2 separate regions of the Homo sapiens genome follow, and region 1 is linked to region 2. Evidence: fine-mapped expression QTL. A gene starts in region 2. The other region holds a variant in brackets. All regions are shown on one strand. Distances are between the middles of the regions. Region 1 overlaps LOC124901332 (a long non-coding RNA gene). Region 2 holds the start of ELOVL5 (ELOVL fatty acid elongase 5).

Region 1 (16,652 bases), 110 kb before region 2:
TCCCAGCTACTGGGGAGGCTAAGGCAGGAGAATCGCTTGAACCCAGGAGACAGAGGTTGCAGTGAGCTGAAATCACACCACTGCACTCCAGCCTGGGTGACAGAGCAAGACTCCATCTCAAACAAACAAACAAAAATAAAAGAGAAATAAATAAATAAGGAAAAAAGGAAAAAGAAGAACTTGTGAACTTGCAAAGAAAAATGGTCTCATTTGGTAACACTGCCCAAATTGGGTGATTTTTTTTTTTATTTTATTTTTTAACTTTTTACTGACAAGAGAGATTCTCTGGCACGAACTGAAGGTGCCCTCTCTTCTGGGTGATGTGTATTAACATTGTACTGAGTCTGGTTAGGGTGGCTCTTGACAGGATAATACTTTCTTTTTTATTAAAAATAATTGTATTTAGGCCAAGTGTGGTGGCTCACGCCTGTAATCCCAGCACTTTGGGAGGCTGAGACAGATGGATCACCTGAGTTCAGGAGTTCAAGACCAGCCTGACCAATATGGAGAAACCCCGTCTCTACTAAAAATACAAAATTAGCTGGGCGTGGTGGTGCATGCCTGTAATCCCAGCTACTGAGGAGGCTGAGGCAGGAGAATCACTTGAAACTGGGAGGCAGAGGTTGTGGTGAGCTGAGATCGCACCATTGCACTCCAGCCTGGGCAACAAGAGCAAACCTCAGTCTCAAAAAAAAAAAAAAAGGAAAAAAATTTGTATTTACTTAGAAGCATTCAGAATGTCAACAAAATGTCAACAAAACAGCTGCAACTTTTTTTTTCAATTATAGAGTGGTATTCAGTTAATGGAACAACAATTATTTGGTATAAGCTGCATCAGAGACAACTGAAGATGAAAAAAACTACCATCACCATGTATAACTAATTTGCGCTGTGCACCAAAAAGAACCTGTTTGAAATTTTCATGCCAATTTACAACCCCCATACTTTACCAGGCAAGGTTAGTGGTTATTGAAAATACTAGCAGGGCATGGTGGCGTGTGCCTGTAATCCCAGCTACTCAGGAGGCCGAAGCAGGGAAATCGCTTGAACCCAGGAGGCAGAGGATGGAGTGAGCCAAGATGGTGCCATTGCACTCCAGCCTGGGTGACAGAGGAGACTCAGTCTCAAAATATAAAAAGAAAAAAATACCACCAAGACATCGCTATCTAAAGAAACATTTCGGTAATGTGTTAATTATACAAAAAAATAGAATGTATGGTTTAAAAACAAATTTTACACAGCCTTACATTTCATTTTTTTTCTTTAAAAGGAGTGAGTTGTGTACAGGCGGGCTAAATGCTTTACAGACAAGAAAAAAAAAAACTAGAACCAACTTATTCATTATCATTGTCTTCTTCATCTTCATCTCTTTATCTTCCCCCTCCTCACCCTCTTCATTTTCCTCAGCTTCCTCCTCTTTTTCTTGCTTTTTTTCAGCCTTGACAACTCCCTTTTTTGCTGCATCAGGCTTTCCTTTAGCTCGATATGCAGCAAGACCCTTTTCGCATTTTTCCTTCGGCTTTGCAGCCTTCTTCTCCTAAGGCTGCTTGTCACCTGCAGCAGTGTCATTCCACATCTCTCCCAGTCTCTTCGCAGCATCACCAATGGACAGGCCAGGATGTTTTGGGCAATACTCAGAACAGAATAGAAAAAAAGGCTGAAGGAGGCCTCTTGGGTGCCTTGGGATCCTTGAACTTCTTTCTTGTCTCCCCTTTAGAAGGGATATAGATTTTCATTTCTCTTTCATTATGGGCCTTGTCCGCCTTTGCCGTATCTTCAAATTTTCCTTTCTCTTTAGCAGACATGGTCTTCCACCTCTCTAAGCACTTCTTAGAAAACTCTGAGAAGTTGACCTAAGCATCTGGATGCTTCTTCTTATGCTCCTCCTGACAAGTTTGCACAAAAATGCGTACGATGACATTTCGCCTCTTGGCTTCTTAGGATCTCCTTTGCTCATGTTGAGTAATTTTTCCTCAGTGAGGCACAGAGTCGCCCAGTGCCTGTCTGGCTTTCACTTTCCCTGGTGCTGTCTCTATCGAGAGGATAATAATTTAAAAGTTGTAAATAAGCATGTCTTATCCTTCAGTTCTCTAAAGCAGGTTTTACATGAAATCTGAATCTGACTGAGAATGTTACTGTTCATTCTTTTCAAAGTTCCAAGTAGACAAGCCACAAAAGCAATTTCTCAGTTTCTTTGGTATGGCTCATGCAAATAAAAACTGGTGGCTAAGACCTAAAGAACAGTTTTAATCTCTGAAATACCGATGACTTCAGGCAGAAGCACAGATGGGTAGGAAGAGGGAGGCAAGGGGAGAGATTTCTCTCCCATGATCATGTTGTCCCAAAAAGGGTCCTTGTGTACAGTTTATAAGGTCACATGTTGACACAATGGTTGTTAAGACCTTGATGAAAAGAGTCAGAGGAAGCCAGTGTGAAATACTCAATGACATATCAGTGGTGAGGCCTTGAGGCATATAAAGAAGGTCATCAAAGTTTGCCATCTCTTTTATCTGCTCTTGCCCACCTCTGCCTAGATGTTACAAATGAAGGAAATATTTGTTGAGAATATATTTATCTGAATGCACTACGTGAATAACGAGAATGTTGGAAGAATGTATGACGGTATATATTGGCTCTTTCAATATTAAGGACCTCGTATAGTCCTTTACTAATCTTAAGGCTTGTCCAAAAAAGATTAAACAAATACACAAAAACAGCCTCCTCCCTCCTACAGTAAACCCAAATAAATCTGATCAGCTTGAAATTATTTCTACAATAGCTCTCACGGCTATCAGGATTTAGTCTGATCTCCTGGCAAAGCCAACCCAGCCCCGCATGAGCCCCCGACCCTCTGCCTCCATCCTTCTCATTCCCCCCGCTGACCCCACCCCCGCCCCCCGCCATGTTAACTGTGAGGTCCTTGACATGCACGCTCCCGCCTCACACCTCCAAGCCTTTCTTTCTCCTGTTCCCTTTACCTCCATGTCTGTCTACTCTCACCTGTCCTTCCACATTTAGTTCCGACATCACCTCCTCCTGAAGGCTTTCCTGCACTGTCTCCTTGCTCACACCAAGACTGGTGCCTCGCCAGTGTGTGGCCATGCATGCTGTCCAGGACTCCAGCACAGGGTTCTACTGAATGGAAACCTTTTTTCTTTTCCTGTTTACTGTTTCTTGTTGTTGTTGTTGTTGAGAGAGTCTCGCTCTGTCACCCGGGCTGGAGTGCAGTGGTGCGATCTCAGCTCACTGCAGCCTCCATCTCCCTGGTTCAAGCGATTCTCCTGCCTCAGCCTCCCAAGTAGCTGGGATTACAGGCATGTGCCACCACACCCGGCTAATTTTTGTATTTTTAGTAGAGATAGGGTTTCACCATGTTGGTCAGGCTGGTCTCGAACTCCTGACCTCAGGTGATCCACCCACCTTGGCCTCCCAAAGTACTGGGATTACAGGTGCGAGTGACTGCACCCAGCCTCCTGTTTACTGTTTCTTTTCTCGTAATACAAAACCTGTCGGATAGTAAGTGTTTAATGTACATTTGATGAATGAATGGTTTAATCAGAGTTTGTTTCTAATCTTGTTTCCAGCCCACATTAGCTTATTCACCTGTGTGCAAAAGTGGATGAGGACAAATAATTGTTAAATCGTTTGCTTGACTAAGAATGTTTTACTGATAGCAAGTTGGCAATCTGAAAATTAGTGGGAGAAGTAGTGATGGGTACTGAACAGACTGCCAACTTAGATTCTGATTATCTGCTGTGAATCATTTCTTTAACCTTTGAAAGCTTTTAAAATTATTTTTCTGGGTATAATAATAATGTGGCTAACTAAAAATAATGAAGATCATGTTTATTGTAGATGTGTGCTAAACATCCATGTTTTCATCCAAGTGCTACAATTGCAACCCCCACATTACCTCCTTTCCCCACTCTGCCTACTCCTAGCATACATGCGGGCATGCGTGCATGCACACACACACATACACACACACACACACACACCCCTAGACTAAACCTTACCAGATTTAGTCTGGTAAGACACATTTCACCACATTTCCAAAGTTATAATGGATCTTGGAAGGGAAAGCTATGGAAAACAGTGATAGAAACATACTTATCACACAGCGATAGAGCTCCCTTTTGATCTCTTCAAACAAGACAAGAAACAAAGAGCGAAAATCATCTGAGAATTCAAAACTGCTGGACTATTCCCATTGCACCGAGTCATGTGGATCTGTGTCAAGTACACAATCAGTTGCAAGTCAGCTGATAGACAGAAAAGAGTTACTTCAGAAAGATAATCTCAGGGAGCTTATTATACTCCCTTTGAAGTAATGAGTCCAGTGAACTTGAACTGGAGACTTGAAGTCTCTGATTTCTGCTGTCACTGGAAAGGAATTACTTTTTCTTTTTTTTGAGACAGAGTCTCACTTTGTTGTGCAGGCTGGAGTGCAGTGGCGCAATCTTGGCTCACTGCAACCTCTGCCTCCTGGGTTCAAGTGATTCTCCTGCCTCAGCCTCCTGAGTAGCTGGGATTACAGGTGCGCACCACCACGCCCGGCTAATTTTTTGTTTGTTTGTTTGTATTTTTAGTAGAGATGGGGTATCACCATGTTGGTCAGGCTGGTCCCAAACTCCTGACCTCGTGATCTGCCTGCCTAGGCCTCCCAAAGTGCTGAGATTACAGGTGTGAGCCACCATGACCGGCCAGGAATTACTCTTGACAATTTTCTATGTAATTTATTGGAGAATGACAAAAGTGGTTGAAAATATTATTAGCTGGAATCTTGGCCTGTGTTGGTAAACAACAGATAAAAAGTTTTAAGGGTGGAACTTGCAAGTCTAATTACACAACATTAAAAATAAGTCTCCATATCAAACATAATTAGTAGATTTCAGATGAACTTGAGGAACTATTAGAACAACTTACCTAAAGCAGTTTTGTTTCTCAGAAAAATGACGTTATAGATCTGGCCTAGAATTTGGCATAGAAACTTTTCCTACAAGGTATAATGAGAAACAGAATCAAAGCAAGAGTCTTAAGACTCAGTCTTAGTTCTAGTTTGGTCTTTGTGATCCTGGCCAAGTCACTTCAACATGAACTTGGTTTTCTATGTCTACAAAGTAAAAGGGTTGGGCTACTATCGCTGCTGTACTACTACTACTGATCTATTTGTGCTGGATTATTCTATATCCAGATAAATGAGGCCAAGTGTTTCTGGCATCACCAACCACCATTTAAACAAATAGCATCCCCTCCATAGGGGAGGAGGCTGCACACATCTGCTGCTCTCCACCCTGAGAATGTGGATGAATTCCAATCAGCAGCCACCACCTGACTGATTTGCCCACAGCCTGCTCTGGGTCCATTGGCTGGGAGGCTTCTGGAGGCAGCTGGGTCATGTCATCCCAACCCAAACTGGTGATGTGAAAGAACAGTCACATGTGTGAGCAGGTGCATAACCCATTCTCAGGAGGGAGAATGGAGTGAAGGAACAGTGGTTTAGGTAATGACTCATTCAGGTTATTCATTCTGTGTGTAAAGCCCAAGGCCCTCCAACTGGCCCTGACCTACCTGCCCCGACTCTTCTGCTTTCCCGACACCTTCTCTGGGCCTCTATTGCCCTTCTCGCTAGTGCAGCTGGCCCCTTGATGGCTTATATAGAAGATAATGTACCTAAGTCATTCGTCACCCCAACCCTTGTGCATAGGTTTTCCTTGTTGCCAGAACCTGGATTTTGTTCAAGGGTGTCCCCAGCCCTATGTGATCAAGTGAAGAACTCTTAAGCTTCATCCCCAAAGGAAAACTGATCACTATGCTCCCATTGGTTATTGGCCTAAGCCAATCACTGCACTCCCATTGATAATCGGTCTAAACCAATAACTGTGCTCCCATTGGTCTAAACCAATAACAGCGCTCAACTGCGCTGTCTGTATGAGATGCTTGCAATGCTGCTGCCATCTTTTGAAAAAGAGAATGATCAGCTGACAGGCTGAGTGAGCAGAGAAATGAAGAGAATCATCTGGGGCCTGAGTGAGATCACTGGGCTGCTTTGTTAATCTACCCTAGATGCTCTCTACATCTTGAATTCTTGTTATGTGAAATTACAATTTTTTTCTTACTGTTTGAGTCAGAAGCCCAAGGTATCTTGCTATTTTTCACACTGGCACACTGGAGAGGCAACAAGAAACCCCAAGTGGGGTTAGTGGAGGAATCAGTTCCTCCACTTAGAAGCCATTACTGAGGAACAAATTACTTCAAAATTTAGTGGCTTGAAATAACAATAAGCATGTATTGTCTCTGTTTCTGTAGGTTGCAAATTTTGGATCTTTTTGAATGGGAAGTCTGGCTTAGATTCTCTCCTCTCATGAGACTGCAGATGGGTGTGGGCTGGGGCTGCCCTAATCTGAAGGTTCAACTGGGGCTGGTGGGTCTGCTTCCAAGGAGGCCCACTCACTTGGCTGGCCAATGGGGGCTGGCTGTGGTGGGAGGCCTCAGTTCCTCTCCATATGGGCTTCACCACATGGTACTTGAGTGTTCTCTGTTTAAAATATAGGTTTTATTAATATTTAGGTATGGCAAAGCCATCAGATCAGGAATGACTGCTAATAAAAAGATAGTTTGTTATGCTCACAGATCTCAAGAGGAAGGGGTGTGTCACACCAGCCACATGGGGAAGTACCAAGATCAGTCAGGAGGCAGAGGGAGCAGAGTGAAAACAGGGGCACAAACTTTTTTTTTTTGAGATGGAGTCTCGCTCTATTGCCATGCTAGAGTGCAGTGGTGAGATCTTGGCTCACTGCAACCTCTGTCTCCTGAGTTCAAGTGATTCTCCTGCCTCAACTTCCCGAGTAGCTGGGACTACAGGTGTGTGCCACCATACCCAGCTAATTTTTTGTATTTTTAGTAGAAACGGGGTTTCACTGTGTTAGCCAGGGTAGTCTCATTCTCCTGAACTTGTGATCTGCCCGCCCTGGCCTCCCAAAGTGCTGGGATTACAGGCGTGACCCACCGCGCCTGGCCAGGGGCACAAACTTTTATTGTGGTTTCTGTGGGAAGGAATGAGTGAGGGAGGGTAATTGGGCTTTGGATTGAATAGTTTGAATCATTTCAGCAGGCTCTGGGCCATACGGGCTATCCCTAGTTGCCTAGTTCCTACTCCTGGGGTGATTAGGGCAGGTGGATAGTGGCCTGGAGGGTGAGAGCCCATAATGGAGGTGGCAGTGTGTGGGCTCTGGATTGATTGGTTTACATTTGTGACGCACCCTCATGGTTGTTTGCTATTTCTAAAAACTGGCTAGTCCTGGGACAGGCATAAAAATACAAAAATAAAAGACATGGTAAATACATTCTCACAGCATGGTGCTGGCTTTGCCCAGAGTAAGCAATCCAAGAGAGCAAGACAGATGCTGCAAAGTCCTTTATGCTCTCAATTCAGAAGTCACATATTATCCCTGCTGAACTCTACACAGACCAGTCCTAATTCAACATGGGAGTAGACTATGCAAATAAATACCTAAGAGGTGAAGATCACTGGGGGCCATCTTGGAGGCTGGGTATTACACATCTGGCAAGTTCCTTGACCTCCAAATGTCAGTGTCTTCACTTAAAAAAGATGGCAATAATATTATGTTACTTTGACTTCTAAGTTGAAAGCGAACAGAAAGTGACTCTGGCTTGCTTAGGCAAAAGAGGAATTTATTGAATCAGTTTTGGACAATTCACACAATAGAAGGGAAGGCTATAGAACCAGGCTTAGCAGAACCTAAGGGAGCTCAGGGAGCAGGGAAAGTCATGCAGGGCAAAGCCTCAGGGTTGGTCTGGTTGGGAAACTGATGTTGACATCAACTGCACTGGCCACCGGATATTGTGGCCAGAGCTAAATGCTCAGCACCACTGCTGCTGAGCAACTCTCAATCGCCTCTGTGCCCTGAAGCTTCCACAGTGTGGGGAGAGTGGAGAAAGGAGGACCAGGTCCCTTCTGCTTCTGGGATTACAGCATATGTCCGCTACAAATATGGGCTTCATGGGATTCACCAAAAATATATGAGCACCTTCCTTGGAAAATCGAGAATGCTCAGTAATGGTTGGTTGCTTAATAGAAAGGAGAAAGCAGATACCGTGGGATGGAATAGAGTGAGTTTGGAGATCTCAAGTTGAGAGTGAGAATAAAGCATGCTCATTACATTTCCAGCCACACTGAGCATTTCTAATCGCACTCTTACCTTGTCTTCACTCCTATGCACATTTGCAAATTCTTAAATTGCTGAGATTTGTACAAATCTTATCTATATACTCTATCCAGTGAACCAAGTTGGAGGCAAGGGAACAGTATGTTATTAAGAAAAGGTAAAGTGAAAGCCTCCTGTGAAAATTGCAATACTGGCTGGGAGCAGTGGCTCATGCTTGTAATCCCAGCACTTTGGGAGAATGAGGTGGGCAGATTAATTGAGGTCAGGAGTTCAAGACTCCTGCTTGGGCAACATAGTGAAACCATGTCTCTACTAAAAATACAAAAATTAGCCAGGTGTGGTGGCGCACGCCTGTAATCCCAGCTACTCGGGAGACCGAGGCAGGAGAATCGCTTGAGTCCAGGTGGCAAAGGTTGCAGTGAGCTGAGATCACACCACCGCACTCCAGCCTGGGCAGCCGAGTGAGACTCCATCTCAAAGCAAAGCAAAGTGTAGAGAAAAGAAAATTGCAACACTAGCCTCTTGGTACCTTGACATGAACCACAATTAACCACACTCTTTAAGTGGTGGTAGCTTCCATTTCTGTCACTGTTACCTTCATAGTACTTTTTTTTTTTTTTTGAGACAGAGTTGCTCCTTCTGCTCACTGCAACCTCCACCTCCTGGGTTCAAGCGATTCTCCTGCCTCAGCCTCCCGAGTAGCTGGGACTACAGGCACATGCCACCATGCCTGGCTAATTTTTTGTATTTTTAGTAGAGACGGGGTTTCACCGTGTTAACCAGGAAGGTCTCGATCTCCTGACCTCGTGATCCGCCCACCTCGGCCTCCCAAAGTGCTGGGATTACAGGCGTGAGCCACCACACCTGGCCCCTTTATAGTACTTCTATCTCAGTTTGAATTTCCAAGGCAAAGCCAGACACCTTTTCTCACAAAGCCTGTGCTCTGTTGTTAGGTGTGGGCATGAGTCTTGCTGTTCAAACTCAACTATTTCATTCAAAGTGACCTTT[C/T]GTGGGTTTACAAATTCATTGAGGTTGAATGTGTAACTAAATTCTAAAATGTTAGTTCTAAACTAAGTTCTAAAATGGTTCTAAAAAGTTCGTATGTAAGGAGCACCAGGAGGGCTTGCTGAAACACCAGTTGCTGGGCCCCACCCCTGGAGTCTCAGGTTCAGCAGGTCTAGGGCGAGGTCGGAGGATGTGCACTTCTAATACGTTCCCAGGTGGTGCTGAGGCTGCTGGTCTGGGGGCCACATTGAGAAACACTGACTTGAATGACTTGATGCTGTTGCTGGCCTGCTTTGTAAACTTCTTAGACCCTATCCAGTAATTGCCTTTCTTTTCTTTTCTTTTCTCTTTTCTTTTTCTTTTTTTTTTTTTTTGAGACAGAGTTTCACTCTTGTTGCCCAGGGTGGAGTGCAATGGTGATATCTTGGCTCAGTGCAACTTCCGCCTCCTGGGTTCAAGTGATTCTCCTACCTCAGCCTCCAAAGTAGCTGCGATTACAGGCATGTGGCACCACACCTGGCTAATTTTTTTGTATTTTTAGTAGAGACAGGGTTTTACCATGTTGGCCAGGCTGGTCTCGAACTCCTGACCTCAAGTGATCCACCCATCTCAGCCACCGCACCCAGCCAGTAATTGCCATTCATAAAGAAAGCCAAGATGACACCTACAGAGCAAAATTATGTGATATTCAGGAATAAACACTGAAACATTATTTTGATTAGAATAATAGCTGCACGGAACAGAAACTTAGCTATAAGAGCTTAAGCAAATAACAGTTTGTTTTTCTTACATTCCCAAGAAGACTAGAAGCTGTGATAGGCTGGTGAAATGACTTCACCTCATCAGGGGTCAAGGCTCTTGCTAACTTTCTCTTCTGTCATCCTTGGTAAATGATCTTTGTCCTCATGGTCACAAGATGGCTGCTGCATCTCCATGTATTGCCTCTGCACTCTAGGCAGGAAAATGAATGATGAAGAAAAATGCATGTATGAGCTTTTCTGAAAGTCCCTCTAGAGACTTCTGTTCCCATCTCATGGGTTAGAACTATGTCACATGGCCACACCAAGCTTCAAGGGAGCCTCAGCACTCATTGACCCACATAAAATGGGGTTCCCGTCGATGAGAAAGGAAGGAAGAATGGGTGGTAATCAGCAGGCTCTGGGATGCACTCACCTGCTTGACTCCCAAAGGGTCACATTGCGTACTCAGGCCAGAGCCACCTACAGTGCTAAACCAGCCACGCAACAAGTGAAAGGGACAGAGAAAAGACATGAAGCCACTTCTGTACTAGCATTTCTTGCCTCCTGCTAATGGGTGTTATATGAAAAGGGAAAACTGAACTAGAACTTCTTTACTATAGACTTCTGAGAAGTTTTATTAAGCTTATGTATGTGATGACATTCCAAGGCAGGAACAAACATACTGCATTTTCCAAGCTTATTTGACCACAGAGGCTTTTTAAAAATTTTTCTGGAGCATCTCTCTGAACTACATTCCATGGAAATTTTTGCCAGAAAACCTTGATATATACAGTGTCAACTATCAGTGTGTTTTTTAAGACTCCTTACGAGAAAAAAAGCCAAGTATGTTCTTCTTACATCAGTGAGATAGTTCTACTTTTTTTAAGGGGAAGGAAATGAAAATAGGAACAGTTTGTGAGTCAGGGCGGGGGGTGTGATACCAGCCTGCCACCTGAGAACCATGCAACCTTGACAGGCCTGGTGGCCTCCCTAGAGTCTCCTGTGGTTTTTTTTTTTTTTTTTTTCTGTGAGACAGAGTCACCCAGGCTGGAGTGCAGTGGTGCGATCTCGGCTTACTGCAACCTCTGCCTCCCGGGTTCAAGTGATTCTCCTGTCTCAGCCTCCAGACTAGCTGGGATTACAGGTGCGTGCTACCACACCTGGCTGATTTTTGTATTTTTAGTAGAGATGGGGTTTCGCCATGTTGGCCAGGCTTGTCTTGAATTCCTGACCTCAGGTGATCCGCCCCCCCTTGGCCTCCCAAAGTGCTGGGATTACAGACATAATCTACCACGCCCGGCCAGAGTCTTCTGTTCTTACTTGCAAAACAAGATCTGTAGGCAAGCACCAGGATGCATCCCAATAAACCAAAATTCTGCAACTTCACAGCTCCTAGAAAGATCAAGAAGGGATGCCTGAATCAATCTTTGGTAATGGGAGATAGAGGATATATGCCCTCCTGTTGGGCGACAGAGTGAAACCCCGTCTCAAACACTGGAGATGGACTCTCGGGGTTTTGACATGTTGGCCAGGCTGGTCTTGAACTCCTGACCTCAGGTGATCCGCCTGCCTTGGCCTCCCAAAGTGCTGGGAGCACAGGTGTGAGCCACCACACCAGGCCTGGTTCTCCCCTTTTAAGGGCTCATGCATTCTATTAAGCTCACCTAGATAATTTAGGATAATCCCCCCATCTCATCACATCTGCAAAGTCCCCTTTGCCATATAAGGTAACATATCTACAAGTTCTAGGAATTAGGACATGGACATCTTGGGACTCATGGGCATTCTGTCTACCATGCAGATGAAATCTATTGTTTAAAGAAGTATAAACAGTGTTGGGAAACTGAAGACTATAACAAAAAATTCAAATTAGGCTTAATAGTATGTGAGACAAGCAGTACAAAAGGTAGAGAAGGTTTATGTGAGAAAAGAAAAGAAAAAAAAACCCAAGAAAGGAGATCAATTACAATACAAGCAAAAGTAGGACAACACTAGTTACGAGCTGGAAGCACGTGAATCCTTTAAGAGCCCGAGCAAAGGGCAAAGGTTTAGTATGGGATTGTTGGAGTTTCTTTCTATTATATATTGTACCTTCACCAATAGAACTAAAAGTCTAAAATCACACTATTTAAAAACCGAGAATGTATCAGCATTAACCAGATTGATCCTACAGGCGCTGCTTGACTTTCAGGTGTGGAGGTGGTAGGAAGAGCCACAGAATGGCCTGAAATAATTGCAGAGCTCCAGTGTTTGAAGAATGTATAGGAACCTGGTGAGGTGAAGGCACCCGTGCCTTTGCTTAGTGGCTTCAGGATGTGGAATAAAAAGGAACATGACATCTACATCCAGGTGAGAATTAGGCTTGGGACAAAGGGTGGTGAAGTATTAGTCCAAAGGTCAATAAAAGAGTAAGAATCACATGCAAGTAAAAGGATCCAGGCAGAGGGTGTGCAATAAGAATTTCTCAGTCCTGGTCCTGTTGTCATTGTGAACCACATAATTATTTGTTGTGTGGGTGTCCCGTGCATTGTAGGCAGGTTAGCAGCATCCCCGGACTCCACCCATCTGATGCAGTGGCACCCTGCCCCAGGATGTGACAACAAAAAATGTCTCCAGGCCTTGTCAAATGTCCCCAGGGGGAGGAGACAAAAATCACCCCAGTTGGGAACCACTGGTATACACTGAAAGAATAGGTAAGGGGACACAACACACCAAAAAGGGGGAGCCTGCAAGCCTGGAAAGAGTCTTTGAGGCTGCAAGGACACAAAAACCGAGGGAACCTTGTAAGGGGCCTGTTGCTGGAGCTGGTGGGCTGGCTGGGAGCCACCAAGAGCATCCAGCTGGTTTGCATACTGGCCTGTAACTTGGCCAGGGCAGGATCCAGGTCAGAAGAGCTCAAGTCTAATTCGTTCAGGGGTTGCACTCTGGTTGTTTTCCATTTGTTATGCAAGCACAGGTTTCAAAAGGCAATTCACCTGGGCAGGGGATATGCTTGCTTGCAATATAAACAGCTTGGAACCTATTATCTTACATGGTTGTTTCACTTCATCTAGGTTCACTGTCTGTCCTCCTGACCCCTGATTTGTAGAGGAGGGAGGAAACAAGGATGGTGGAGAGACTTGGATGCAAGTAGTGCCACCTCCAGCCTTTACAAGTGCCGTTAGGAGAATTAGAAAAGGTGCATCTCTGGCTGGATGAATTAGGAAAGAATGTCCCCTCAGGGAGGATCAGGAGTGGGGCTAGGCTAGGAGAGTGGATGGCACCTTATCTCCAACCCTAGCTGGGAGCGCAGAGCTGCGTGTCAGCGCCCCCATAGTGAGTACCTGCAGAGTTCCTATGGGAGCAAGCCTCCACCATGCACACTACATCTTACATAGCCTGTGAGGCAGAGGCTTACTCATGTAAACCTTGAGGGGCAGACATGACATATGGGGCCTCCGAGCTCTGAGGGGTACTAAACTTTCTTACCAGCAGGATTAGAATTTTAGTATGACACATGGTGAGAAACAAAGGCAATTGATTCTGTAGGAATGAGTGTAAGGTGGCTTAAGAATATTCTAAAGGAGAAAAAAGCAAAATGGACAGCTAGGAGAGACTGTGCAAAGTCGCTTCTGTGCATCTGGCCTGATGAGCATATTCATTGATAAATTTAGGACCTAGGTGATCAACAAGAGCACTGCACTTTTGCAAGTGAGGGCAGACCTCTAAAATTCCTTCTAAGGTTCAAACACTAATGGCCCAAGGCTATTAACTGCATCTAGTTCAGGGGATGTGTTCTATAAAGTAAATCATGATCTGCTGCATAAATTCCTATGCACTGGATGTTGTAGAAAAATCTTCCTTTGATGACCTTGGAAGACTAGACATGTTAGCCCTCTTTCTACAAGGGCAAGGAAGGTATCATGCAGCCAAAGGACAGAGAAAGATTCTAAGTCAAGAAAACGCCCATTAAGTGCAGATGTGTCCACGTTATAGTTGGAGACCTTGAACCATAGGGTCAGACTAACCCTAACATTGCAGAGTTGCAGAGGGTGAGAGTGTGAATGGAGACCTACACAACAACTGTCTAATTTTGTTTCTTTTGAGACAGGGTCTTGCTCTGTCACCCAGGCTGGAGTGCAGTGGCGCAATCACAGCTCACTGCAGCCTCAACCTCTTGGGTTCCAACAATCCTCTCATCTTGGCCTCCCAAAATGCTGGGATTACAAGGATTAGCCACCACGCCCAGCAAATGTCTAATATTTAAATAAACTTTCTTCCATCTTTGTACTTTGTCAAATATACTTTCATAGCAAGAAAATGGGGGAAAAGTGAAATTTACGGTTTTTATATGACTGAAAGTTTGCAAAAACAAGAAGAAATAACTGGACTTCATTATTACATGCCTGTAGGTGTTCTGTTAATGGGCTGACATGTGTGAATGCATACTGAAGACATATACAATTCATGCATTATATATTTATCCATAAAATTAATGTTTCTTGCTTTCATTTCAGGAAAATTACAATTATGTTGTTATAATCAATATTTTCACATAATTTGTGTTCTATTAACAGTAATACCTAATTAGATTACCTTTCTTGAATCTTAGTTTTTCTTTTCATTTTTTCAAGTTTCCATTAGAAGCTGCTCGGCAGAGGCAGTAGCAATTGCAATTGTCATTAAAATTCTTAAAGCAACCCTTCCATTTGGAAATGAATCATGAATTTTATGTCAGTCATTATAATTGGGTTGCATATGGTATATTGCCATTATCACAGGGACTATCACAAAATAGTTTAATTTCATCCCATAAATTACTATCACTTACATAATGATTTTCAAGATTTCTTATAATAATGTCTTAAAAATCTATACCTATATAGTTTTGTGAAGGGTTGCTATCACGTTTCATGCTTACATGTGCAGACCTACATATACACACCTTTAAGACTAACATGAAGGCTGGGCACGGTGGCTCACGCCTGTAATCCCAGCACTTTGGGAGGCGGATCATGAGGTCAGGAGTTTGAGACCAGCCTGGCCAACGTAGTGAAACCCCGTCTCTACTAAAAATACAAAAATTAGCCAGGCATGGTGGCATGCACCTGTGGTCCCAGCTACTCAGGAGGCTGAGGCTGGAGAATCACTTGAACTCAAGAGGTGGAGGTTGCAGTGAGCCAAGATCGTGCCATTGTTCTCCAGCCTGGGTGACAGAGTGAGACTCCGTCTCAAAAAAAAAAAAAAAAAAAAAAAGACTAAAGACTAACATGAACTGTTGTGAATATTGTGCTAATTGATGAGTAACTCCAGAATCTTAAATTGGAACATGAAGGGAAACAAGACTCTTGCATTCAGGCTGAGAGGAAGATTTTGGAGAGCTGTCTTTCCTCTTACCAAGGAGCTCCTGTTACCCCAGTTCTCCTCACTCCCCAAGGCAGTGTCTGTGTCTGATGCCAGCAGAAGTACAACCTACAAACCATCACAGCTCTGGATGTCATTACCTTTTGTTTGGAGAACACGGGGCAGAAGATTTAGAGGTCCCCTGGCACCTAAATGATGTTAGTCATGACTGGTGTTCAGGGTTACAAGTTGCACTGAGCCAATGGTGAATGTGAAGTGACCGAGGACCTTCTAAAGTGAGGGTCCAGGACCCCCTACCCTAGTCCTTGAAGGCCAATGCTGCACCCCTTGCTAAATAACCATACAAATATTACTATAGTGGATTGAATGGTGTCTCCCATTAGAATGTCCACATTCGAATCCCTGGAACTTATAAATACAACCTTTTTTTGGAAAAAGAGTCTTTACAGATGTGTTAAATTAGGAATCTTGAGATAAGCTCATGTTGGATTATCTGTGTGGGCCCTAAATTCAATGACAAGTGATTTTATAAGAGACAGAGGGGAGTCGGAGAAGAGGAGAAGGCCATATGATTACAGGGGCAGAGACTGGAGTGATGCAGCCACAGGCCAAGAATGAGAGTCAAGTTATAGCCTTCGGAGGGAATAGGCCCTGCCCATAGCTTGATATTGGATTTCTGGCCTCTGGGACTGTGAAATAATAGGTATCTGTTGTTTTAAGCACCAAGTTTGTGGCAATTTGTTACTGCAGCCACAGGCACTAGGGCTGATGATAACAGTGACTAATAACCATGAGCATTTACCATGTCATTTAACAGTGACTAATAACTATGTGCCAGGCCCTCTGTGAAGCCCCTTTTACAAGCATTATCTCATTTGAATCTCACAACAGCCTCATAAGATTGGCGTGATTATTTACCCCAATTTACAGATGAGGAAATTGAGGTTCAAATGGAGCAAGCAGCTTGCCTGAGGCCACATGGCTAGCAAGTGGCTGAGCTGGGATCTGAACCTAGATCTGTGTGACGGTAAGACCTACTTGAAGCACAGGCTGAAGCCTCGCTGCCTGGTCACATATGGAGCTGTTACAGACAAGCCCTATTCTTGGTGGTTCCGGGTTGATAGTTCTGTGTTCTTTGGCCCCCTACTTAAACGGTGGTTCAAATATTTTAGCACTTGCCCCCTCAACCTTCAGCTCTGTACCACCCCTCAGAAGTGATACATAAATTATAATCAACCATTTATCTAACTCAGAAGACCAAGGGAAAACTTTCCTTGCTATAAAGAAACATTTTAGCCATGCTTAGTCACATACAGTTCTTTGCAGCTATTTTGCCTCTGGGTCATTTGGGTTTATTTGCAGATGTTGCCAAACG
Region 2 (16,652 bases):
CCTACTAGCTGTGGATATTTGGACAAGTGACTTAACCTTTATCTTAGTTTCCTCATCTGTAAAATTGGGGTCCCTACCTCGTGGGCTTTTGTGAAGCCACAATGAATTAATACATGTTGAACACTTCAGAAAAGTGCCTATTATGTGGTACCAAGCAGCTATATTCAGTACCCATAGAACAGCTTTGTTCTCTTTAAAATTTGCAGAATATTCCGTTGCCCAGCTGTAGCATGATTTATTCTTTTCAAGGACATTTAGTCTACTAACTCTTCCAATCTTTTGCTATTAGAAACAATGCTTCAATAAACATCCTATATAACAGAGAGACGTTTTTACTATGCTAATTAAATTAAGTCAGTGCCCCACCTAACTTTCATGTACAATACTGATAGTTTTAATACCCTCCAAAGTAGGCACAGGATTATCACCTTCCAAGTTCTACATAGATTCTAGGGTCTCAAGGAGGTAGAGTGACTTACCTGCTGAAGCCCACGCAGCTGTTAAGTGGCAGAGGTGGAACCCCGCATAGGTGCAGGCTGCCAACCCAATCTGCTTCCCACAGCTGTCCTTACTTAAAAGAAGTACAGGAGGTATTCTTTTAAATGCACCTCAGATCCATCACAGAGATTAATATGCAGAAGTTCGGACAGAAGCAAACTCAAATTTTCACACAGATGCTTCTAACAAATACAGCTGATGGAGGCGTCAACGACTTCTGTAAATATTGAAGTATTATTTCTTCTGCCAAAGACTGAAGCAGAAGTACCCTGAATACTACCCCTAGGGAGATACATCACATTTCAAACTCCCCTGGAAGCAAATGAATAATTACTGAATTTGGTATCATGAGAACTATTCTTCAGGGAAGGAGAAATTCATAACACTCACTTTGTTGTAGCATTTGCTGTGCCAAGACCAAAGAGGAACAAGTACTACTCTGGGGTTCAGAAACTCATAAAACACAGACCTGAGTGGCCAATTCGCCAGCATGGCTTCAATTAGGTCTGTTCAGCATGGGCTTATAAGAGATTAATTCTGACAGGATGAAATTGTTGACATGAGGAAAAGGATGGGGTAAATGTGGAACTTAACAGAGATGGAACCTGTGCTCGCAAGAGGGTGCCTACCTAATATAACCATAAAGATTACAGTTTAAAATCACAGGTATATTTCAATAAAATTGTTATTCTCCCAATTAGAGAAAGCATGCCAGTATCAGCACTAAAAATCTTAAAATAAATCAGAAATTTTTCCCTAAATCCCAGTCAGCCAGCAGACATCAAATAAAAGGTAAAAAAGTCCAATCTAATAATAAGGAATACTAAGACATACTCATGCCTGAATGCAATTACAACTGTACTTCACACAGAACTGGCAGAAGAGGATGGAGGAGCAAGAGTGGGAATTTAGTCTTTCTAAAAGGTCACCAAGTATGAATATTTTAAATCCAGAGACTACACAATTCTAAAAGTGAATGCCTACAAGTCCACTAAAAATGTTACCATGGAGCAAACACGCCAGTGGGAACCAAAAAGGCTGGTAATAACATTTACGGGTTGAAACTGGGGTTGGTGGTGAGGGTTCCTATTGCAGAAACTGAAAATCAGGTCAGGATAGGCCAGAACATCTCCAGCAGTGATGTTTTAATCTCATAAAGAGAAAACCAGCAGCTTGCTGCTGCTGCTGCAATCTCCATCAACTGTTCTGACATTTTCCCTCCCTCCCTCCCTCCTTTCCTTCTTTCTTTATTTATTTTGGGACAGAGTCTGGCTCTGTCACCCAGGCCGGAGTGCAGTGGTGTAATCACGGCTCACTGTAACCTCCGCCTCCTGGACTGAAGTCATCCTCCCACCTCAGCCTCCCAAGGAGCTGGGACTACAGGCATGTACCACCACATCCAGCTAATTTTTGTATTTTTTGTACAGATGGGGTCTTGCCATATTGCCCAGGCTGGTTGCAAACTCCTGAGCTCAAATGATCTGCCCACCATGGCTTCCCAAAGTGCTGGGATTACAGGTGTGAGCCACCGTGCCCAGCCAACATCTACCTTTCTAAGATCTAAATGATCTCACTTTCATTCTCTATCCCTGGCCAAACAGAAACAAAACAAAAATAAAAAATAAAATTTGCTCTAGGCAAAAATGAAAATAAAATTTAATCTTTCATTTTAAAGGAAAAGAGACCAATGCTCAGAGTTGATTTTCTTCAAGTTAGGACAAGAAACCAAGGCAGCCAGATTCTATACAAGAATGAGGCACCCTACTTAAACAATCATGCCTTCCAATCTTCTCAAATTACTTCAGTTTTAATAAACACACAAACATGTATGTACTTTACTATAAACCTGTAACGTGAAGCTACATGTGTTTTAATAACTATCATGGGAGCAGAGGTAACCCAGCTGGTGGAAGAAGCCCAGAAGCCTGGCTCTGCCAGCATCTGGCTGCACCACCTTTGGTAACATTGGGGCTTTCCTTTTCTCACCAGGGAAAAGTGTAGGAGGCATCCCAATTCTGTAATATTAAAATGTGGAAAGTTACCTGCAGTGATTTTAAGATGCCACTGATTATAAGCTCCATCTCTACCCAGATGTGAAATGTGAAAAGCTGACAATAGATGAAATGTGGTAGAAACATGTTCTTGCAGAAAGGCAACCAAAAAAATAGCTAAGACAAAGGTTGGCCGTGAAGAGGAGGAATTGGAAGAAACAGCTAGTCTGGATATCTATCTAGGCTGTGGGGCTATTTCCATCTGATCACAAAGCTCCCTCTTCTCTTTGGAAGAGTATCCCTCCTCTTGCTGGCCCTCAAATCCAACTGGTCTTCAAGTCTTATCCTGGACACAGTCTCTCACAATTACCTCTCTCAAGTCTGTGCTCATGGCTGTGGCTTCAGGTCAGGCCTTTTCACTGCCCTGGCCATCTCTAACAAACCCACAACAATCCACCCTACACTCTAACAAGACTGTCTTTCTGGAGCACAGCACTCATAATGTCCTCATTCTTATTCAAAAGCTTATTGGTGGTATTCTACCAAACACCTTAGGAGACGGAGCAGGCCAGGGTGTCAAGGTGATCTGAGCTGGAATGCTTTGTGACCCCAAATCAAGTGTCTAAACTCTGGGCCTTTTTCCACCTGTAAAATGGGAATGCTGTAGCATCCATTAATAATAGAAATAAGTCCTTGTGAGGGGCTCAGTGCAAGGTCTGACATACAATAGCTCAGTAAGAGTTAGCCATTATTATTACATCAATAACTTGCCTTTCTCACCTTTTCTTCCACTCCTGCCTTCTAAACCAGCTTCTGCCAATTGTGCTATTTGCTTTTTGCCCAATGATTCCACACTCGCTTACTCTCCAAACTCCCTCTTGCCTAGAACGCATGTCCTCCTATTCCTGCCTATCAACTAAGAGTCCTTTACAAAATGTAAGGCTAAATTCTAATTTTAATTCAAGTCAATTTAGTTTAATCCAATCATCCATTCGGTCCTTAAAACAGACGCTGTAGCTGACTTCCTGTGTTCTGCAGGCCCTTCTTAAAGGTGAAGCAGCTAGCTGAGGAGATTTAACTTCACTTCCCTGGTTCTGGGATGGGCCCCCAGCTTATCAAATGTCCACTGTTCCAGTTATTGCTTCAAGTAACCAAGGCCTAAGTCAATCACCTTAAGGTAAAGGACTCTTTGGAGGGTGGCAGGAAGTCAGGGAATCCCCATGTGAGATTATGGTGGCAGCTGCTGTCAGTCATCTTGGAAAATCAGTCTAGGACATAACAGACATCTGAGGGGACTTCAGAGAAATGGAGCAAAAGTCCTGCCCTCAGGACTTTTCAGGTCAGATGCACAGGTAGGTCTCAGTTGGGTTTTCTGTTTCTTGCACCAAAAGCATCCTGACCAATTCAGGAATGCTAGGCCCTTAACATGGATAGCTCTGCCATAAAGCTTTCTCAGATATAAAGATATAAGTGTCCCAGAAATCTGCTTCTGACTCTCTTTTGGTCCAAGGTGTAGATTAAGTATGTGTATACAGGCTTAAAGTATATACTAAATCAGGAAACCCTCTGGAATCAGGAACTGTTGTAATTCATTTTTGTATCCAGCCCCTCACACCCAAAATCAGTAACTGAGAAGTCAATGAATTAATTTAAAAAATGAATCAAGTGTGGGCTACAAGGAAGGGAACAGATTTTAGACAGATTTAAGAGACAATAAATTGTTAGTCTTGGATGGATTAACAAGAACCTTTAAACACAAGGTTAGATTTTTAAGTTGTGGAGTAACAGTGTTACATAATGGCACAGAGCCCACTGGGCAAATAATCCTGGCAGCACAGGGATATATGAAGGAGCAGAGATGTTGCAGGAGACAGAGCTATAGGAATTTGGACAAGTCACTTGTCATCTCTAGGCCTTAATCCTAGAGATTCTTTTTTATTTTTCTTCCACTTTAAGTTATGCGATACATGTGCTGAACGTGCATGTTTGTTACATAGGTATACATGTGCCATGCTGGTTTCCTGCACCTATCAACCCATCATCTAGGTTTTAAGCCCTGCGTGCATTAGGAATTTGTCCTAATGCTCTCCCTCCCCTTGCCCCCCACCACCCGATAGGCCCGGGTGTGTGATGTTTCCCTCCCTGTGTCCATGTGTTCTCACTGTTCGACTCCCACTTATGAGTGAGAATATGCAGTGTTTGGTTTTCTGTTCCTGTGTTAGTCTGCTGAGGATGATGGTTTCCAGCTTCATCCATGTCCCTGCAAAAGACACGAACTCATCTTTTTTATGGCTGCATAGTATTCCATGGTGTATATGTGCCACATTTTCTTTATCCAGTCTATCATTGATGGGCATTTGAGTTGGTTCCAAGTCTTTGCTATTGTAAATGGTGCTGCAATAAACATACGTGTGCATGTGTCTTCATAGTGCTCCTCAATTCTTAAAAAACAACTGGGGGATAAAACCTCACAGAGGTGTTATAAGAATTACGTGTGGAAAGCAACCGTTTATGTACATGTGCGTATTAATAAGTACCTGACACAGAAAGCATTCAAGGAAAGACTTATTTACAGGTAACTAATGAGAGGATTAGCCTTTTGATAACAGAAGAGCTGGTAGGCAAAGAGGAGGAATTAAAAAAAAAAATTACAAAATCTTTTAGGAGAGAAGAATGTAGCCAGGAAAGCAAGAGGTAAAACTCTCTCTTCACACTAACTACCCACCTAGGCACCAAAGTTACCCTCAAGAAAAGTAAACAGTTTTGCTTTGATTTGTGTAATTCAAGCTGGAAATAAGACACCCAAGGATGGATGCTCACCTCTAGAAGCAGGAAGACAAGCAACCATTATGCAGGGAGCAAAAGAAGAGGTAGTGGAAAAAAAGATTCTTGCAAACAGAACATCCAAAAATTAAGGTCTGTAACCAAGAAGAAGCTGTTGATTTCAGGGAATGGGAAGGAAACATTTTCAAACCACCATTTGGCAGACTCAATGCTGGGCTCTCATTTGCATTATCTCTTGAAATCCACAATGATCCTGCCACATAAAATCCCCATGTATAGACAAGGAAATTGAGTCAAGGAGGTGAGGTCAATATCTGAAGTTACAAGATATTTTTCTTGAAAAACATCAAATTTTAGTAAGCCTTCTACTGTCGCTTTTCAGCAAAGTTCTGTACTACATTCTGTAACATTACCTATCTGTAACTATCAATAAAAATTTCCCCTTTGTCTTCAATTAGAAATAGAAACGAAAATGCAAAAAGAGAAACAGTACAGAAAAAGTTCCTGGCAATAAGAAGTTAGAATCTAGGGTAAAAATCTAAAAGGAAAATGAGTAACATTTCCCTTTCAAGTGCAGAGCTTTCCTGGAGAATCCCAGGCAGTGTCTGAGCTACCAGAAAAGTAACCCACTTGTCCCCAATCACAGATGGAAGGCTAAAATGTTTGTCCACGGCCATCTAATGCAAAACCGCCTGTTTCTATCTGTAGATTCTGCACGAAATGCTTTTGGCTGAGACGTGCAAGCAAAACAAGTGCAGACCAACAGGTTATCTGCCAAGCGGTTAGGAGAATGAGTTACAAAACCTGACAAGCAACATCAGCTCTTCCGTACAATTCTATGAAGCACTTCCTGCCACGGGTCCCGCTATTTAAAACAAATTAGGCTGCTCGCTCCCCACAAATCCCATCTAGCACCTCTCGGTTCCTCAGTCTAGCTAATAAACCATGCACTGGATTCTTCCGAAAGAGACCCCCCGCCCCCGACCCCGCCACCTCCGCCACTTTGCATAACTGGCCAAATGCATTCTCCAAATTTGCAATCAAGGAGCTTAATTCACAATTGTGGATGGGGCGGGGGGAACCGCCAAGTGCAAGAACACGGAACGGTTGCAAGACGCAGTTCAGCAAGAACAACTCTTGCTCTAGGCATTGCTCCGTCGACCCGAGGTGGTGGGGTGGGAGAGTCTTACCGGCGTGGAAACAGTAAAAAGGCACTTTTCCTTACAACTCGCAAGACAACACACACTCTAGCTCCCCCGGCGCAGAGCACAACCGCCCCCCCGCCGCGCGCCTCCCTCGCAGCCAACCGCTCCCGCCTCTCCAGGGATCAGGCTCCCAGAAAGGGCCGCCCCGGTCGCCCCCGAGTCCCCGCCCTCTCGCTTTCCCACCAGCCTCATCCCTCCCTGAGTACCAAGGGCTGCCGTTGTCTGGTTTCAATAAAAACTGAAGCGGTCCCGAGCTAGCAGGCTTCCCTCCGAGGGGCGGACGGAAGGTCCGCAGGGTTAACGGAAGCGGAGAGAACAGGACAAAAAGGAAAGGCCGGAGAGTCCCCCCAGCGGCGCCCGGTGCCCGCAGACCCTCGCACAGGCTCTTCGAACTCACCCGGGTTTCGCCGACTCCAAAGAAAGCGCGCTCCCTCCGAGAGCGCTCCCCCGGCTCTCCCGCCGCGCGCTCCGGCCCGCAGGGCGGGAGGACCCAGGCGGACAGATCCATCCCTCCGCGTCTGGTGTGGGCACGGTGTCGTGCCCCGCGGCGCCTGTCAGCGCGCACAGGTGGGACCGCAGCACAGAGAACGCTCCCGAGCGCCCTGCCTCAGCCTCGGCGTGGGGCGAGCCGCCCGCGCCCGCACCCGCACCCCTTTCCCCGCGCCCGAGGAGCCGGGCTGTACCCCGGAGCCGGCGGAGCTGGAGGCCGCGGGCGGAGCGCGGGTTGCCCCGGCAGCTCTTTCTCGGCACCAGGTCCGAGACCTAACGGCAGTTCTCTCTGACCGCTTCCCGGCCGCGCGCTCGCGCGGGTGTCATGGCCGAGCGGCGGCCCCCGACGAAGTTTCCCGGAGCTGACGGCTTTACCTTTTAGCCCAAGGGGCGGCAGCAGCTTTGAGCAGCAGCAAGGCGGCGGCGGCGGAGGGAGCGCGGGTGGCAGCCGGCGCAGAGGCGGATGTAGAAGGAGACACCGGTGGCTAGGACCCGCGCGATGGGAAGAGGAAGGCGCCGGCTATCTACAATCAGAACGTGGGCTGACCGTGACGTCACAATGGCGCGGCCAGCCAATCGGGACCCGAAGGATGAATCAAGCGCTATGATGTCATGCGGCCCGGGAGCCAATCGCGGGACAATAGAACTTTCGTGATCGTAAATTCCAGAATCCGATGCGGTGGAGAGCCTAGGCCGGGGTTGGCCCCTCGGTTCCACGTGTCTCTGGGAAATTTTTTTCCCCTTTCTTCCTAATAAGCCTGCGTGGAACGCAGAGCCTGCGCAATAGCCCCGGTGAAGTTGTCGATGCCCTGAACTCTGGTTTTTTTACTGCCAGGCGTGGCAGGAGTCTGTGGCCGCATTTGGGTGGCAGAAGCCCACCCTCGTTACGGTCTCCTCTATGAGTTATGTCATGCTGAAGGGGATCCACTTCATCGTTAAAGCTGAAAGGGTTAAATGCCCACGGAGACCGCCGGAGTGAAGGTCTGCAGTTGAACAAGATAAAGGAACAAGAACAAAACGACTCAAAACTGTTGTAACCATAACTCCCTTGCAAAGGATTTACCGTGTATTTTTCTTAGGGATTCTGATTTTTCTTTGGAAGCCACTATCAACTCCATTTCTACTCTAGAAATTATTCTAAAGGATTGTTAAATGAGGAAAGATGGAATCAGTGTCTTTTCAGCTAAGCATATTTAAGCACTTAAGACAAAGGGGGTTCAGGGCATAAACGGAAGATCCTTGCTGTTTTTCACTGATATTTGGATAATTAAAGACCTTCATTAGCTTTGTATCCTACTGTTTCCCCATTCAAACCCCAGAGATTTAGCCTTTCTTCGTGTGCCCCTCTTGCTGTATTCTTACTCCTCTATGTGCATCCACCTAACAGTCGGCTATTTAATGTAGGCAAATTTATTCTTTTTTTTCTTTTTTTTTCTTTTTTGAGACAGAGTCTCGCTCTGTTGCCCAGGCTGGAGTGCAGTGGCGCGATCTCAGCTCACTGCAACCTCCACCTTCCGGGTTCAAGCGATTCTCCTGCCTCAGCCTCCCAAGTAGCTGGAATTACAGGCACGCGCCACCACACCCGACTAATTTTTGTATTTTTAGTAGAGATGAGGTTTCGCCATGTTGGCCAGGCTGGTCTCGAACTCCTGACCTCAGGTAATCCGCTCGCCTCAGCTTGCCAAAGTGCTGGGATTACAGACGTGAGTCACCGAGCCTGGCCGGCAAATTTATTCTTTTACATATTTACAATGTAATGCTTATCACGTGCCAGCTGTGTTCCAGGCAGTGGGCCATTGCAATAGGAATGCAAGTATACAAACCATGTACAAATTAAGTAAATTAAACATATACAAAGAATCGAGATTGTCAGTTGCCATTGAGCTCCACAAACACTGAATGACTTCAATTTGCTAGATACTATGTTAGGTATTCAAAATTTGAAACCTTCAAGGACTTCTTGGGCCTGGAAAATGATACAGTCAGGAAGCAACTACAATGCAGAGTGGTAAATGCTGCTATGGACATCAAGGGACATGAGAAAAGCATATGCTGGTGGCATAGACTATTTTTTTGAGATATCTCCTTCATTCTTCACGCTTCTGCCAGTAGTCCAAGGCCAGGGTTCATCTCTGTCATCCCATCTAAGTTTTGCCTTTCCAGGTTTTAAAAGTTTCTAATTTAACTTGAGATTCCAAAAGTCTTAAGTTTTACGCCGCACTTGTTTGAATTGTGCTTACCTATCAATAAAATGTTTTAAGCCCATTTGACCAAAATATCTTTAAGTTCAGGCTTATATAACTGTCAAGCTATGCATTAAATATCAAGTGATTTTTCTTATTGTATGATTAAGTATGACGTTTTGCTGTTTTTTCCCATCCCCCAAAGGCTGCGTTTTTACACAGTTCTTTGTTGATGTGTGTATCTTGGTTTCCATTATAGCATCACCACCCTGTATTGTAGTTGCTTTCTGATGGCATCATCTCACTCAATCCTTGGGGTATATGTACCCCACTTTAAAGACCACCGCTTTAGGTAGTAAACTCCGTTGAAGGGGAAAACATGTTGAATTTTGCTCCTTATTGATCTGTAGATCTTAGTACAATCCCTGGCATATAAGGGCTCAATAAATACGTGTTAGATGAGTGAATCTGTGAACAGTTACTCCCCCTCACCATCACCATCACTTTTCAGCTCCAGAGTTCCAATCCTCTGTCAGATAGTCACATCCCAGGATTATTAGATTATTAACTCCTCTCAAACATGTTGGTACGGTCATGTTCTCATTAGTTCTCCAGCCAGAGACTTAGAGTTCTCAGAACATATATATATATGCAAATGTATTATTTTACATATTACAATGTAATGTTTATCATGTGTCATATATCTCTGGGGGAAACTTCCTCCCACCCTAACAATTACTTCGTATTTCTGCATCATTGCACTCATGAGTAAAGCTGTAAGAAAAACAGTGGAGCCGAAACGACTCCCCAACTTAACTGTGGGATTTTTTCCAAATAAATCAAAAGAATACCTAGGATCCAATGCCAGGCTTACTAAATAACAGGGCTCAAGGAACCTGTTTTAGGTAGCATCAGAATCAGATTCCTGGCCAGCTGGGTTCTGGAAACTGTGCTGAAGCCATCCTTGCCCTTCTAACCCACCTATCCAACAATGTGAGCCCATGTAAGGTACAGTTAACAAAACCTTGTAACTATTACCTGTTTGTTCATAGCATCCACATGGTAGTCCCCCAAGAAATGATTGTTGAATTATCTTCATTCAATAGCTAACTATTAATATTTTCTTCTTTCTCCTTCATGTATTTATTTATTTATTTATTTATTTATTTTTGAGATGGAGTTTCGCTCTTGTTGCTCAGGCTGGGGTGCAATGGCACGATCTTGGCTCATTGCAACCTCCACCTCCCAGGTTCAAGCAATTCTCCTGCCTCAGCCTCCCAAGTAGCTGGGAGCGCCCGCCACCACACCTGGCTAATTTTTTTGTATTTTTAGTAGAGATGGAGTTTCGCCATGTTGGCCAGGCTGGTCTTGAACTCCCGAACTCAGGTGATCCACCCACCTCGGCCCCCTAAAGTGCTGGGATTACAGGCGTGAGCCACTGTGCCTGGCCTTCTATTTGTTTTTAAATTCTGGTAATATTTTTCCTTTTGCTCTTAGTTTTCATCATTGAGCTCAAATCTCCTCAAACCACACACTTCTAAGTGTATTAGAAGGTTGCTTCAGTATTGCTTTTGAAAAGGAAAGTACTTAACATCCTAGGCAATTTGTTTTATTGTTATAGCAGCTGCAGTTGAATTAAAAAATACAATTGGAACTTTCATTAGAATACAATTCTGATTAGTGAAACTTGTTTCATTAGGACGTATTTGCATGACATAATGAAACACATCCTTCCAGAAAAGATATAAGCCAATGTTTGCCTCTGGACATATCAAAGTTGACTAAAATATAGGTCAAGTAGCAGCTATTTTATGCTAAAGATGACACTGCAGTCTCTGTTGGTTCCTACGTTCTCCGCCTCCCCCCACAATCCTTTTTTCTTCTGTTCTAATTTGTGTTTTCTATTATCTTGCTGCCCAGAATTCCCACAGGCCACCTGGCTTGTCTTTGTCGGAGGCAGAGGTAGATTAAAGGCAGTTTCTTGTCCTCCTCAGACCTTGGAGTCAGTTCCATACTTCAATTGTTACTTTGCTATTCCTTTTCTTCATTGCTGTTCAACAATATGTCCTGCAGTTTATCTCTGTCCTTGTCCTTGAGTGTTCATCTTGATGAACATGAACTACTTGAAGACACTGCCCATGCCTGGTCTGCTATATTGTTTTCTTAATGACTAGCAGAATTTCTGGCAAATCACAAATGTTCATAAATATTCGATTAATGAATGAACAATTTGTACAATTTCTGGATTCTCTAGATTTTCTTCTCCACTTCCTTTTACACTCTTTAGTACTGTCTCCAGAAGTGACTGGGCAATGAAAGAGATCTGCATCCCAGTCTTCTGTATCCACATTTCCTTTGCAGGTGATATCATCCCCTTTCATGTGTTTGGATTTCATCTATGGTCGGCTGACTTCCAAGTGTATTTCTCCAGCCCACACATTTTCCCTGATTTCCAGACTTACGTACTTAACTACTTATTAATGACTTCTCTAAATGAGATATATTCATAAATGAGATATCCAAAAGACATCTCAAATTAAGCATAACAAAAAATGAACTCTTAACTGGCCTTCAAACCTGATCTTCCACAGTAGTCCCCAGATTTGTAAATGACAATTCTATGGACCCCGTTTCTCAGATCAGACACCTTGGAGTTACCTTTAGCTCCTCTTTTTTTCTCACCTACTACATCCAGTGCATCAGCAACACTCTACTACTTGACCTTTGAAACATATCCAGAATGTGTTTGCTTTTTACCATCTCCAACATGACCACCTGGTTTAAGTCACTATCAACCATTGCCTAGAATGTTGTAATGGTCTTCTAACCAGACCTCTACTTCTGTCTTTGCTGCCTACAGTCTATTCCCAAACCAGGTGCCAGAGTGATCCTTTTAAAACCAAAGCCAAATCACGTCACATGTCTGCTCAATGTCATCTAGCAATTTCTCATCTCCCTGATAGTAAAAGTCAAAATCTTTACAATGGCCTATAAGATCCTTCATGATTTTGCAACTTGCCATTTCTCTGACTTTAAACAGCTACTCTGTCTTCCACCCACAATGGCCCCAAGAAATATCTTGAGCACACCAAGTACTAGACTGCGTCAGGGCCTTTGCATTTACTCTTTACCTCATGCCTAGAATAATCTAACCCAGAAATCTCCAAGACTTACATCCTTGCTTCATGCTGGTTGCTACATCACTGTCATTTCCTTAGGGAGTTCCCCTGGATCACTCCCTTTAAATTTGCAACACCTCCCTCCCTGCCTTTCACACTCTGGAACACTTTATGTTTCTCCTTAGCACTTAACATTCTGGCATAGTATAGATTTACTTTTTAATATTTGTGTATTATCCCCACAGCCCCATAAGCTCATTGAGGACACAGACTTTGTTCTCTTCACCACTGTTTCCCCAGCACTTCGAACACTACCTGGCACTTGGTAGGAGCTCAACAAATATTTACTGAATTGGTAAAGGAACAAATGAATTAATGTAAAATTGAAATGCAAGTCAATAATATATGTTTTTACTAGGTATCATTTGACTAAAAATTAAGTCAAAGAGAAAGAAAACACTAACTACAATAGTTTTAAAAATATTATCTGAGTATAATTTTTCTGTTCCCTGTTACAGTAGATACAACAAATTTCTCCTTTTGCCTTTCTGAAATTTTAAAATGTGAAAAATTAACATGCTCCAAAGGAATATTTAACATTTTTAAAGTGCTATTAAAAAGACTGTAACTATACTTTTAATGAAAACAAAACATTATTTAGTCTGAAATTGCTATGAATTTGGGATATCTTACCCTTTCTATGCATGCATCAGTTATCTTGAATATCAAGCACTTTCTCTTGACATAAAAACTGTTATATTTATTTCAGTGATGAATCCAGGTTCGTAACAATTCTTTCCCTTATGCTTCCAACATTATAATGAGACAAACAAATTGAGCCACAGAAGAGTTAAATGACATGACCAAGGCTGCACAGCCAGTTAGTGCAGAATTAGAATTTAAATTCAAGTATCAGTTCTCCCTTTCCAACTTGGACGCGGCAGAACGGCTCCTGCAAAGAAGGGTGGCGAGAAGCAAAGGGTCATTCTGCCATCAATGAGGTGGTGATCCAAGAATACACCATCAACATTCACAAGCGCATCCATGGAGTGCGCTTCAAGAAGCGTGCCCCTCGGGCACTCAGAGAGATTCCGAAATTTGCCATCAAAGAGGTGGAAACTCTAAGTGTGCGCATTGATAGCAGGTTCAACAAAGCTCTCTGCGCCAAAGGAATAAGGAATGTCCCGTACCGAATCCGTGTGCAGTTGTCCAGAAAACGTAATGAGGATGAAGATTCACCAAATAAGCGCTATACTTTGGTTACCTATGTACCTGTTAGCACTTTCAAAAATGTGCAGACAGTCCATGTGCATGAGAACTAATTGCTGATCCTCAAATACATCAAATAAAGGTATAAAACTGCAAAAAAAAAAGTCTCGGTTCTCAACTTCTTCATATGCTAAGATATGCTGAAGATAAGATTTTAATCTAAGATAGATGGTCAATGTGTCTTTACTTTGCTGGTTATTAAAAGATACATTTCATAATTGATTTATTTTATTCTGTAACATATTAAATAGCTAAAGATTTCCAGGATGTGAACAAAAGCATAAGATAAATAAACTTTTAGCCAAAAAAGTACCTGTGAACAACTGACCAAGAACAGCGATGTGGTTTCTATTGTTAAGGAGTATGTTCTTGTTAAGTAGTATGTTCTGAAAGTGCTCTATGAGATTTTTTGGAGCCGGTGATACAGTACGGAATATGCTTTGTGCTAATTCTATCTTTTGTAAAACAAAAGTTTTTTAAAACTTAGCCATAAGTGAATTAGTCATTCCAAGTTGTGTGATGTTTTAGTTCTCAGTATAATGTGTCATAAAAGGCCATGCTTTTGTCCACCTGCAATATTAGACATGATTTTGCATGTCAAAAACTGGTAGTATAATTTATTTTCACAGTCTCAAATTCACTTTTTGCCAAGAGTGAATGTGGGATGTTAAGACTCAAATGAAATTCTACAAGTTTGTGTTGCAATTTAATTATTTTTGAAAACTATTTCTTGGCCTTTGATTGTAAAGCACTTTTTTCTTCCCAAATTCATATACCCCTTTGTGTCAAGTTCACTCAGTCAATTCTCTTTTGAGTTAAATAGCATTGCAGTGTTGCCTTCTAATCTGAATGGTTAAATGACATGCTTTGACTGTTACAGTCTTCTCTATAAGATGTATTTCAATAGAATGAATTAGGGTATAAAATGTAAAAGTTTTCAAATACCCTATGAGCATAAAATTGGGACAATTTTAGATGGTTTAAAGTCTAGAAAATACAGAATACAATATGTTAATACTTTTGCATCTTATTGATGCATAAGATTAACTACCTTTTTTTTTTTTTTTTTCTGAGACAGGTTGTCATTCTATCATCCAGGCTGTGGTGCAGTGGCACCATTTTGGCTCACTATAGCCTCCACCCTCCAGGCTCAAGTGATTCTCCCACCTCAGCCTCTTGTAGAGCTGGCACCACAGGTGTATTCCACTGTGCCCAACTTTTTTTTTTTTTTTTGTATTTTTAGTAGAAAACGTTGGCAAGGCTGGCCTCAAACTCCTGAGGTCAAGGGATCCACCTGCCTTATCCTCCCAAAGTGCTGGAATTACAGGCCTAGCTATGACGCCTGGCCAACTTCTACTGAATTTTGTTGTTGTTGTTGTTTGTTTGTTTGTTTGGAGACCGAGTCTCACTCTGTTGCCCAGGCTGGAGTGCAATGGTGTGATCTCAGCTCACTGCAACCCACACCTGCTGGGTTCAAGTGGTTCTTGTGCCTCAGCCTCCCGAGTAGCTGGGACTACAGGTGTGAGCTACCACGCCTGGCTAATTTTTGTATTTCTGGTAGAGATGGGGTTTCACCACGTTGGCCAGGCTGGTCTTGAACTCCTGACCTCAGGTAATCTGCCCACCTCGGCCTCCAAAAGTGCTGGGATTACAGACATAAGCCACCATACCTGGCCTTTACTGAGTCTTAATCTAAACATGATCTTTTTATTTTTCTCTTCACCTACCCTGACCTCTTTTACTTCCTTGAATGTGACTTAGAACAATATGTTCCTTCCTTCTTTCCCCATGACCAAAGCATTCTGTGCAGGCTTTTTATCATTTATAATATTAATATTGTAATTGTTTGCTTATTGCCTCTCCTCCCCAAGTCAAGTGAAGAATATGTGTCATTCATCTTTGCACCTCAAGCATGCTGTGACAGGTACATAGTAGGCATTCAATAAATGTTTATTGAGCTAGACTCCCAGAAAACCATTTACTTTCCTTATGATAAAGATAGCAAATAAGACACAGGCTGTTTCAGGATGTGCAAGAAAAAAATGTTGGAGCCCCCAATTCATATCACAGTTTATTGTACTTTAATGACAAGATAGGCAGATTCTGACGTGGCTCCAATAATCTTTGCCGCCTGATATTCATGCTGGTGGGTTGGACCTAGTAACTTGTTCATAACAGAACATGGCAAAAATGATGGAATGTCGCCTCCTAGATTGTTAGAAAAGAAGGTGTGACCTCTATCTTATTGGCACTCCCTCTGTAACTTCTTGGCTTTGTGTACTTTGATGAAGGAAGGTGCTATGGAACTGTCTACATGTCAAGGAACTAAGGTTGGTCTCCTGTCCACAGGGAGCTGGGAACTGAGGTTCTGAATCTAACAGCCCTTGAGGAACTAATCCTGCCAATCACCACATGAGTGAACTTGGAAGTGGATCCTTCCCCAGAAAAGTCTTGCGATTACTCCAGGCCCAGTGGATACCTTGACTGCGGTCTGTGAGAAATCCTGAGGTAGAGAACCCTGCTAAGGCAAACAATGCCCCAATTCCTCATCTGCAGAAACTTTGAGGCAAAAAATGTTGTTCCAAACCACTAGATTTTGGAATAATCTGTAATGTAGGGATAGTTAATACTTTTTACAACAGAATCAGACACAGACTAATTGAAATAAAGTTTATTTACTTTGCTTATCAAAACAATCAAGGTATGCCTAGTGTTTGATAACTATGTCAATATACCGGTCACAAGAATTTACCTTTCCCAAAATGGTTTTCTCATATCATGAAAAACATATACACATATGGGTATAGGTTGCCCAATTTCAAAAAGAAGAGGTCAAGGCAAGCGACTTTGAAAACAAATTAAGCTGCTGCTTCACTGATTAGGGAACTTACTGGTAAGGAACCCTCATTCCTCAACCCACTTCCCCCAGATATCAGTAAACATTTTCTCAACTCGGGGGTAGTCAAGTGCCTCAATTTCTCACTTCATTTATTATTTTGAATTAAGGTATTGCAGCTTACTATAACACAAACCAAAACACAGACATTATATGGGGAGGATAACGCATTGAACTTTCGTTCACTAATGAGTAGACCCAATTAGTTTATTAGATCA

The links. PIP is the estimated chance that this variant, and not a neighbour inherited with it, causes the effect.
Region 1: its variant is fine-mapped to the expression of ELOVL5 in whole blood (TOPMed, PIP above 0.99).

What each region holds. Positions count from the first base shown.
Region 1 is chr6:53,234,287-53,250,938 of GRCh38, forward strand. It overlaps LOC124901332 (a long non-coding RNA gene), which reads right to left. Exons shown (of 4, transcript XR_007059612.1): 2 at 11,255-11,326; 3 at 9,985-10,145; 4 at 9,759-9,858. It also overlaps the pseudogene HMGB1P20. Among named protein-coding and RNA genes, the nearest start is that of MIR5685, 34 kb to the right of the region's middle. The variant C/T (reference allele first, on the strand shown) is at 9,198.
Region 2 is chr6:53,341,475-53,358,126 of GRCh38, forward strand. ELOVL5 (ELOVL fatty acid elongase 5) reads right to left here and starts at 7,476. Exons shown (of 8, transcript NM_021814.5): 1 at 7,343-7,476. It also overlaps the pseudogene RPL31P28. RefSeq lists a silencer at 6,877-7,316.